Regions from separate parts of the Homo sapiens genome. Here region 2 is linked to region 1. The links come from fine-mapping of genetic effects on gene expression. Tissue or cell type: whole blood. Region 1 holds a variant in brackets; the other region holds the start of a gene. All regions are shown on one strand. Distances are from middle to middle.

Region 1 (5,680 bases):
CAGTGCCCGCTCTGCCCCCAAAGAGCCCTCTGCACCCCAGTGAGGACTGGCTCTTCGGCTCTTGACCTTTGACTCATCAACACACATTAACAAAAAAAATCCCTGTCTTGTTCAGATCCGTGCTGTCCAATCCGGTAGCCACACACGGCTCTCGGGCACCGCACAGTGGCTAGTCTGAAACCTGACATGCTCTAAGTGTAAAATACATGGTGGATTTTGAAGACTTGAACCAAAAAAAATGTAAAGTGTCTCATCAATCACGTTCTACTAATCTCATGATGAAAGGACATCATGTATGTGAGAGAGTTAAACGCGCCGATGAAACCATCCGTGACACGCTGTGATAGGCGTGGCTGGCTGTGCCTTTGCTCCATGTGGAGCTGACGGACCACCTCCTGTGGTCACCCTCACGACCACCGTGACGCTGGACACTGTCCAGGGTGACCTGTCTCCAGGCTGTCAGGGAGGGTCACGACCACTGTGACGCTGGACACTGTTCAGAGCGACCTGTCTCCAGGCCGTCAGGGAGGGTGGGGCTTCCCTCAGAGGCCCTGGCTTCTCCCTCTCTCACCCTCAGCCTGTGCCCCCGACACTGTCTGGCTCTATGCACTGAGAGGGAGCTGCCTGCTGCCTCCCCGACCCCACCCCCCTGCACTGGGGTCTGAGAGTGCCTTGGTCCTCACTCAGCCTCCCTGGGCTCGAAGCTCTTCCTCCCAGCCCCCAGGGGAGGTCCTCCTATGACAGCCGGCACCCCACAATCCATCTCCTCCGCCTGTCTCCCCTGAAGAGCCCCCAGCGCCAGGGACACAAATGGCCCCCAGGGTCTGACCTTACAGAGCCCAGCCGTTTCCTAGGCAGCCTGCCTCCCCACGCCCACTCCAAGAGACTCACTCTCCTGCTCAGAAGCCCTTCACTGGCTTCCCGGCTCACCAGAGGTCGTCCAAAGGCCCCTCCACAGCCCGCCAGGCCTCCCCCTCACCACCCCTTTCAGGCCGTTCCTGCTCACGAGGCTCTGGCTCTACAGTCTCCTTTGGGGAGACCTCAGTGCTCCCCCACCGCGGGGCCTCTGCATGGGCCAGTCCATCTGCCTGCCCATCCCACTGCTGGCTCCTTCGAGTCCTTGGGGTCTCGGCTTCCCCAGCTCCATTCAGGCACGGCCCTCCCCAACCAGCCTTTCTCGCCCACAGCCCTGCCTCCCTCCCTGAGCACTGAGTCTCTGGGTCATCCGCCCCTCAGACAGAAGCTAGGAGAGGACTCCGACCTCTGCCCTGGGAGGCCCCATGCCGCGCTCCATGCCCGGGGCTCACCTCACTCCTATTTGGTAAAACAGCCCTGAGCTGCTGCATGTGGTGATGATTATCCGGAAGCGTGAGGCTTTCCAGATGTCTTCTCCGTCTCTGCAATACGGTTTGACGGCGTCAATAACTATCTGGGGGCAAGGAGGCGTAGAGTTAGTTTACTCCTCCAATTATTAAGCAGAATTCCAAAAGGGAACCTTGCCCTGGTACCACTTCTTAGTTACGTCTAAGTCATGATTTAAGGTTTTTTTCTCAAAATATCTCATACTTCCTTATCAATTCAGTCCATGTTTTATCAACTCTAGAGCCACAAATATAACACATAATCCTGCAGACCCTTCCCCAAAACAACTTTGTACATTTTCTATTCAGTTTGTTTGTTTGTTTATTTAGAGAGGGAGTCTTGCTCTTGCTCTGTCGCCCAGGCTGGAGTGCAATGGTGCAATCTCGGCTCACTGCAACCTCTGCCTCCCAGGTTCAAGTGATTCTCCTGCTTCGGCCTCCGGAGTAGCTGGGATTACAGGCGCATGCCACCACGCCCAGCTATTTTCAATGTCTTTTTTAAACGCAATATTTCAGGCTGGGCACAGTGGCTAAAGCCTGTAATCTCAACACTTTGGGAGGCAGAGGCGGGTGGATCACTTGAGATCAGGAGTTCGTGACCAGCCTGACCAACATGGTGAAACCCTGTCTCTACTAAAAATACAAAATTAGCTGGATGTGGTGGCACACACCTGTAATCCTAGGTACTTAGGAGGCTGAGGCAGGAGAATTGCTTGAACCCGGGAGGCGGAGGTTGCAGTTAGCCAAGATCACACCACTGCACTCCAGCCTGGGCAACAAGAGCAAAAACTCTGTCTCAAACAAACAAAAAAATAAAAGCAATACTTCGCTCTATAACCAAACCAGCAACTTAAAGGAATACTTAAAACCAAACCAGGCCGGGCACGGTGGCTCACGCCTGTAATCCCAGCACTTTGGGAGGCCGAGGCGGGCAGATCATGAGGTCAGGAGATCGAGACCATCCTGGCTAACACGGTGAAACTCCGTCTCTACTAAAAATACAAAAAATTAGCCGGGCGCAGTGGCGGGTGCCTGTAGTCCCAGCTACTTGGGAGGCTGAGGCCAGAGAATGGTGTGAACCTGGGAGGCGGAGCTTGCAGTGAGCCGAGATCATGCCACTGCACTTCAGCCTGGGCGACACAGCGAGACTCCGTCTCAAAAAAA[A/C]AAAACAAAACAAAACAAAAAACACCAAACCAACAAAACAAAACTACTTAAAAAGTAACAAGACGTTTGGGGATTAAATAAAAGAGGAATGTGATAATTTTACAATGCTACGAATGCCCACAATAGGTGTGATAACTCACACAGAGTGAGAATGTGATGAAATAGTCAGCAATCAAGCTCCACCATTTAGCGGTGAGGGAGGGCCCATGGCAGAGCCATTTCTCAAACACAGCTTTCTGTGGCGCCTCTGTGCCCACCCTCCTACCCCTGCCCTCCCCTGTCCACTTGGCATTTCCTATGTTCCAGGGAGGGGTTCTGGTGCCCCCCACTGCTTGCACCAAGGGCTCACCTCCTCGAACCTGCAGGTGGCGTTCACCCGGACCATGGTGGCCGGCTGTAGCACCTTGCTCTCGTGCAGCCGCAGACACACGAGGTCAGCAGCACTGTTGGAGGGCGCACAGACTAAAATCCGACTGTCCGGCAAGGCAAAGTGTACCTTCATCAAAGACACACAAGAGACCAAGGCTCAACATCCACACCGCAAGGTGGAAACCAGGAGTCTAACCTCAACACACACATTCGGGTGCAGGGACTCAGCTGCATGGGCTCAGATGCCAGCCCCCAACACACTGAGACCTGGGCCACGACTCTGCCTCATCACACTGCTGCCAAAGCATGGGTTAGGTGGGAAGGTTCTCCGCACTCTCTAAGATTCTAAACCACCTTTCAGGGCAGAAACAGAGTCAGATTCATCTGCACACATCTGGCGTGTGGTACAATTGTGCGCTCAATACCTGTTTGCTAATTTGAATCCTGAATGACGCTAAATGTAGATGGTCTTCGGCTTATGATGGTTTGACTTAACGCTTTTTTGACTTTATGATGGTGTGAAGACCATCCCCAGTCAGTCTGCTCCTCACCTGACAAGGGATCATGCCTTGATGAACCTGAAACAGGCTTCCCAAATCCCATTACGATGGGTTATTGGGTTGTAACCCCATCAAAAGTTAAGAAGCATCTGTAGACAATAGTTTCATAAACTTAACTTCAATTACAAATGAAGATATCTAAAACTTCTGTGGAATGGTGGCTGTAGCTACTATAAGAGTAACTTCTTTTCTGCAGCAAAATGTCATGATTCAGATAAAATAGTTTACCAGGCTAAAAATGAGTTTCCTTCTAAACCTATGAAATAAGCTTTTAAATCCCTACATATCCACAAAAACAGACTTAACATTATGAAATAACTGGTATTTCTCAAGCTCTTTCCAACTGTCTGATTCTACAATCTAAACTCACACTTCCTGAAGACACAGACGACACATGAACAGCAGCACAGAGCCACAGCACCCGCGGCGCCGCTGTCCTTACCTGTAAAACAGCCTCTATTATTGTCACTGTCTTTCCAGTACCAGGAGGTCCAAAGAGAATATACGGGAGGGGACGGCAGTCACCACTCAGAATCCTTTTAACTGCTAACTTCTGATTTTCATTTAGCACTGGGTTGAAAAACTCCATCTTTCTTGCTTTAGGGGTCTGAATTTCATCTACTGTATTCAAAGTGAAGAAAGTTTCAGTTAGATGCAAACAGCTCTCAACAGCTGTGGACACGTCCTCACCTAGGTCAGGCGTCAGCACGTCTGTGCAAAGGCTAAATCAGAGTCACAGACAGGGAGTAGCTCTTCAGTGTGACCAGGGGTAAGATGCGCACAGGGCATTCCTCTTAATAATCTGTTTGCATTTTTTTTTTCTTTTTTGAGACAGGGTCTCGCTCTGTCACCCAGCTTGGAGTACAGTGGCACAATCTCAGCTCACTGTAACCTCCATCTCCTGAGCTCAAGCGATCCTCCCACGTCAGCCTCCCGGGTAGCTGGGACCACAGGCGCCCACCACCACACCTGGCTAATTTTTGTATTTTTTTTTTTTTATAGAGACAAGGTTTCGCCATGTTGTCCAGGTTGGTCTCGAACTCCTGAGCTCATATGATCTGCCCACCTTAGCTTCCCAAAAGTGTTAGGATGACAGGTGTGAGCCCTGCACTCAACCTGTCTGTGCTTTGTTAAAGAGGGTCAGGAGAACGAATGCAGCTGCTGAGAGGAAAATGACAGGCTGTCAACCGATTCTGCGGCTTTAGAGATCACACTCAAATATTAGAGACTGGATTAAAAAATGTCCACATCTGCAGAGTACCTGGAAAAAAACAACCCAGAATCTAAAAGTCTTCTTAAAGTATCTAAGCTAAAACACCAAGTCTCCAGTCAGGGTGGAGACGGCAGCCGCCTGTCACAGGCCACACGCCCCCTACTGTTCTTCCTTCTGCATGAGAGCCCACTCCTCAAAGTCCCCGTTTTCCAGGCGACAGTCTCAGAGTTGCTCTTCTCCTTGCCCCTCATGAGCACATACCCCAATCGCTCATCTCTGCAGTAAAGGGTGCCAGCACCGGCAGGTCCTTGTCACCAACACGCCTCTCCTCTGTTCCATGCTCAGCTTGGTCCGTCATTGTTTTCCTATTCTAGAAATTATCAGGCAGAAAAATGTTTTAAAAAAACAGCTGTGTTTACACTGGCTTGGTTGAAAGAGCAAACGTAAACATCTAGTGTTCTACTTAGTATATTTATTTAACAGCTCTTTGGATGGATCACAGGTCAGACCCTTTGAAAAATAAAGAAAAAACAAACGATCAGATAAAAAACTGCTAAAAAAGTTTGTGCTTTTTTCTTTAAACTTGCTTTTAGAAATAAACTAAAATTTGTGATGAAACCAAAGCACAGGACTAAATTTTATTTTATTAATATCATCTTCCCTTGGTACATCCTACCTGCTTTCCAGGCTGGACAGTGGGGGAACCTGCAGGGGACAGTCAAGGGTACAGCCCAGGGCTCTGGGTCTCACGGGCCTGGAGAGTGTGCAAAGTGCCAGTGCTGCCTGTTGACGTCAGGCAAGATCCTGCACCAGGCCGGGCACGGGGCTCACGCTTATCATCCCACCACTGTGGGAGGCCAAGACAGGTGGATCACTTGAGCCCAGGAGTTTAAGACTAGCCTGGGCAACATGGTGAAACCCTGTTTCTAGCAAAAATACAAAAAAAAAAAAAAAATTAGCCGGGCATGGTGGTGCTCACCTGTGGTCCCAGCTACTTGGCAGGCTGAGGTGGG
Region 2 (5,335 bases), 60 kb after region 1:
CCCTCATTTCTCTCCCCTGACTTCTTTTCCCTCATAGAGGAAATCATGTGTGTCACTGGATGCATTAGTCTGTTCTCACGCTGCTATAAGGACATACCCAAGACTGGGTAATTTTAGAGTCAAGTCCTTATAAAGGAAAGAGCTTTAATTGACTCACAGTTCCACAGGGCTGAGGAGGCCTCAGGAAACTTACAATCATGGTGGAAGGGGAAGCAAACATGTCCTTCTTCACAAGGTGGCAGGAAGGAGAAGTCTTGAGCAAAAGCGGGGAAAGCCCCTTATAAAAGACCATCAGATCTCATAAGACCTCACTCATTGTCAGGAGAACAGCAGCATGGGGGTAACCACCCCCATGATTCAATTACCTCCCACCGGGCCCCTTCCACGACATGTAGGAATTATGGGAATTACAATTCAAGATGAGATTTGAGTGGGGACACAGCCAAACCATATCACTGTATAACACACTAATTTGTTTATCCTGTGCACTCCTGTGCCCCCAATGAATGTAAACAGCCTATAGGAAGGACGTCACTTCTTTGTCCACCCCATAAATGTTTGTTGAATGTTGAATGATGATGGGACATCAGCAGGCAGAGGGATGAAGGGCATTTTAGGAGCAAGAATTTGTTGGAAGATTGTATGAAAGAACAGGGCCTGTTCTAGAAACTAGTGTTGCCAACAGAAACTTGGGAGCATTTCTCAAGTGATGACTTATGATCTGGGAAGCTGAGGGATTTGCTCTGCAACCTCTGGTTCAGGGCAGCTTGTTTGTATTTCTAAGTGGAGAGCAACTTTTGAAAGAAAAAAATGTTGAAATCCGATTAACATTTTTTTCCAAACAAAAAGAAACACAGGAGGATTCGATCCAGTTGGACCCACTCCCACTAATCCCGTTTATCGCTTTAAAAGATAGTGAAGTTTGGGAGGTTTCTCAATCCATTAAAATGAGTTCTTGACTTCACAGATTATAGTTTTTGAAAATTATTTCTCATCCTTGCTTGATTGAAATGAAGACAACAGAACATTGGCTGTGGTGGCTGGCACAAAATTAACTAACCCTAAAATACTAGTATAGCTTAAACTTTCGTTTATTGCTAAAAATTTATCACTGCTGTTTCCTGTGGGGGTGAGGTTGAGCAAAGTGTTTTGAGCTGCATTTATGCGTACTTGACACTTACGCATTTTGATCGAGGTGATTTAGTGGGCATTTTCACTGGGACAGGGATGCTTGTATGTGTAATCTTACTAAAAGCTAATAAAAACTTACTAAAAGCTAATAAAAGCTTACTAAAAGCTTCTTGCTTGATTGAAACGAAGACAACAGAACATCCCATGGTCTGGAACCTGATGACTTTGCTCAAGTTTTAATGTGGGTTCATGGTTTAAGGAGCTGGTTTTTCAGAAACTTTAGTTTGAGCCTTTTTACAATGTGCACAAAGAACCCGTTGCTGTAGTTGTCAGGGTGCCAGTGTCTCTGGGCGACACACATTACTGTGGTTTTTCTCTGCTTGGTGAGCAGAGATAAAGGGGGCAGCAGGACCGGGCCCACCAGCCATCCGGGCTGCCCACGCAAACCACAGGGCCGAATCCGGAGCCGCCCAAGGCCACACAGCTAAGCCGAGTGCGTGAATGCTTATGTGACCGTGTGAAGGAGGTTCCCACCGTGTGGCTGTGGGGGATGGAAAAAGGCTACTTGGAAAGATGTAGAAGACCTTCGAGTAAACAGTTACGTTTCAGAAACAGAGCCTGCTCAGAATGTGTACTTGGTGGGATTCTATTCTTAGGGACGCTTCTTTCTTCTGAGAGACCCGAGCTCTGTGGCGAGTGGCACAGGCAGGGCCCCTTCCTTTCCTAGTTGGGTTCTGACAGCTCCGAGGCAGTGGTTTACACAACCAACACGAAACATTTCTACGATCCACCCGATTCCTCCCCTCATTGATATTCAGGAAGCAGCTCTCCTTCCCCTGCCTTCAGCTCAAGTTTGCTGAGCTTTTGTTTCATTTGTGAATACTTCTTGCTGGAAGTCCCTCACCCAGAGACCAGTGCTCCCAACGGCAGAGCAGCGGGGGAGGTAAGTGCTCAGACATTAAGCCGTTGAGTAGAGGCATGTTTTGCAATCTCTCGTTTAGCTACCAATTGGAGCAGTTTAACGTGCTTGAGTCCCCGGCGTGATGTGTTCATGGACGAAGTTGCCGATGGATGTTGTCAGGTGTTGCACCTGGAGGGCCCAGATGGATCAATGAGGCATTTAAAGTGTAGAATCTCACCCTGAACCCAGACTATTCAGGTCCGTTTTTCTAGGAAAGTTATTTCTTTTTCACTTTTAGATTCAAGTGCTCATTTTCTTCTTCAAATTTAGAGCACTTCAGTATGAACAATATTTCTTTTGTTAAAAAATATTTCTTGGAAACAACTTATTGAAGTTTCCTCAGAGTGGCCAAAGCCGATGATAATTTTATTCCAGATAAAGAACTGGTGACACGTGGCTGTACATTCAGCACAGCTGTGGTGTCCCCAAGTGCCATGACCCAGGAGCCATTCAGAGAGGAGCTGGCCTATGACCGGATGCCCACGCTGGAGCGGGGCCGGCAAGACCCCGCCAGCTATGCCCCAGACGCGAAGCCGAGCGACCTGCAGCTGTCGAAGAGACTGCCCCCCTGCTTCAGCCACAAGACGTGGGTCTTCTCTGTGCTGATGGGGGTGAGTAGCTCCACACTAAGCCCTTGGAGGGCCACGAGCATCTGGTCCCTCTGGTGACGGACTGCAGCGCCCTGGAGCCCCAGGTGGGACAGAGAGAGCAACTCTCAGACTAACCCTGCTGCTGCAGAACTCTTGGATGCCGACGAGCTTGTTTTGCTTGTGTTTTCACAATTATTTTTATTAATTTATGGGTGTCTGTTGTGCCAGCCTTGAGCTGCTCCAGGTTGTGGCTTAGTCCCACCAGGGTAGGGACAGTCCCAGGGCCATGAATGGGCCCCAGGAGTCTCCATGACCCTCGGCTCTGGGGGCCCAGGGTCCTCTGAGGGGTCACCTGCAAAGGTGGGAGGAGGCGTCTCAGGCCTTCAGGTCGGCCCTCACAGAGAGAACCTCAGGGACCTCCTCCTCCTAGGGAGGGCCTCAGGGGCCGGCTGGGAGGGAGCTGGGGAACAAAGGAACAGGTCTGGGGTGGACGGGCAGCGCCAGATGTCCGAGGGATTTCCCTGGGGTCCTGGCCATTCCCTGCACAGTCGTGGGCACAGAGATGATTGGAGGAGCCACTTGGGCCTGAGTGTGTGCAGCTGCTCAGAGCCATGCTGCAGGACAGGCCTCTATGCAGGGACCCCCGGTTCCGTGTAGCTTGGGCTGAGAATGAGATCCAGGCTGTGATTTCTCCCCTCCCTGTGCCCTGGCCTCCGCCGGCAGCCCCTGCAGCACCCACAGTGGTCCTGCCCACCTCCCGTGGCCTGAGCATGCCCCACCAAGACAGGCGTCTGCCTCGGAGCTGGGGACAGAGGCGGCTCCCGGGTGGTGGTGGCCATCTCCGGGCTCTGCCCTCCTCCACCTGGTGCCCTGGACTTGGTCGCAGCCCCTCCCCCGCCCAGGCCAGATCCCCTCTGCCCCAGACCTCGCTTCCTCTGCCAGGACCCTGGGTCCCAGTGACCTTTGATACTGACTCCCCTCAGACTCACCCCGGGGGTGCTGTGCGTGAGAGAGAGCCCCCTCCCCACCGCACCCCTGCAGTGCTGTGCGTGAGAGAGAGCACCCTCCCTGCCTCCTGCTAGGGTCTTCCCTGCTCAGGAGCCCCTGGGCCTGGAGCCCCTGCCTGGAGGGATCTTCTTCCAGATCTGGAAATTAGGTTCTGCAGACGGAGGGGGATGGGCAGTTGTTTTCCAGTCTCGTGTCTGGACCTGGGTGTGGGATCTGGAAGACTGCACGCACAACATGTTGGGGCAGGAGTATTTTGTGGGGAGAGGTGCCATTCCTTGCTCTAAATATTGGCAGATCCCCTTTCTTCTCTCCTCCAGATAACAGCGTGGGGGGTCCATGCTCCGACATGGCTGGGGGAGGCTGGTCCATGTCCTGGGCTGCGGCGGGGCTGCGTCTGTCCTACAGGAGGAGTCCAGGATGGGCGGGTCCCAGGTGCGGGTGTGGTTGATGCTGGGGGACGTGGGTGAGTCACCAATACACAGACAGTGAAGCAGAAGTTGAAGGGTCAGGGTCCAGCCTGGGGACGGGGCGCGTTGTAACCTGGGATTCTGTCGCTGTCTTGCAGAGCTGCCTCCTGGTGACCTCGGGGTTTTCGCTGTACCTGGGGAACGTGTTCCCGGCTGAGATGGATTACTTGCGCTGTGCTGCAGGCTCTGTAAGCAGCTTCCTCCACGCCTCTGCCAGTGCCCAAGCTCGCCGGCACGTGCTCTGGTTTCTTTGTTCTGAGATGTGCAGGTTTCTGTCACCTGTACCTCATTCAAACCTCTTCATATGGGCCGGGCACAGTGGCTCATGGCTGTCATGCCAGCACTTTGAGGGGTGGAGGTGGGTGGATCACCTGAGGTCAGGTGTTTGAGACCAGTCTGACCAACATGGACAAACCCCATCTCTACTAAAAATACAAAAATTAGCTGGGCGCGGTGGTGGGTGCCTGTACTCCCAGCTACTCAGGAGGCTGAGGCAGGAGAATCGCTTGAACCTGGGAGGCGGAGGTTGCAGTGAGCCCAGATTGTGCCACTGCACTCCAGCCTGGGCAATGAGAGTGAAACTTCGTCTCAAAACAACAACAACAAGAAAAAAACAAAAAACTCTTCATATGACTTTAGTTTCACGTAGAGTTCATCACCTTTGAGAATTACTGATGAAGCAGGCCTGAACCTTGCTCTGCAGACGCCTGTGCAGGGAATTGCGTGTTGATTCTGAGCCTGCGGCTGCGTCCTGCCAGAGCTGGCAGCATCTGCCCTCAGGGGACTGGGACCTGTGCCCCACATCCTCCCAAAGCTTCATGTTGTGTTTTTAGAAACTTACACAGTGCCAAGGCCGGTGGAGGCACCCACTGATCCTCAGAGCAAGGGAGGACAGACAACCGCTGTCCCCTGGTCCTCTGTGAACCCCGGCCACTGCCTCCCCAGCGTCCCGGCAGCTAGAGCACCATGCTGGCTGACCCCTGGGCTCTGGCCCGCAAGCCATGGACCCCATGCCCCTCTGGCCCGCAAGCCGCGCACCCCATGCCCCTCTGGCCCGCAAGCCGCGGACCCCATGCCCCTCTGGCCCGCAAGCCGCGGACCCCACGCCCCTCCTGCTTCAGCTGGTCCCGAGCTCTCCCCTCCTCTCGCTTCCACATGCCTGCTGGGTCTCTGGCCCC

Evidence for each region. PIP is the estimated chance that this variant, and not a neighbour inherited with it, causes the effect.
Region 2: it holds the start of MLC1, and the variant in region 1 is fine-mapped to the expression of MLC1 in whole blood (INTERVAL, PIP 0.99).

The regions. Positions count from the first base shown.
Region 1 is chr22:50,141,438-50,147,117 of GRCh38, reverse strand. It overlaps MOV10L1 (Mov10 like RNA helicase 1), which reads right to left. Exons shown (of 27, transcript NM_018995.3): 16 at 4,929-5,037; 17 at 3,897-4,075; 18 at 2,875-3,021; 19 at 1,308-1,429. Among named protein-coding and RNA genes, the nearest start is that of PANX2, 26 kb to the left of the region's middle. The variant A/C (reference allele first, on the strand shown) is at 2,526.
Region 2 is chr22:50,082,094-50,087,428 of GRCh38, reverse strand. MLC1 (modulator of VRAC current 1) reads left to right here and starts at 2,003. Exons shown (of 12, transcript NM_015166.4): 1 at 2,003-2,074; 2 at 2,468-2,703; 3 at 4,256-4,345. The coding sequence starts at 2,527. RefSeq lists an enhancer at 1,731-2,355 and a silencer at 4,075-4,369.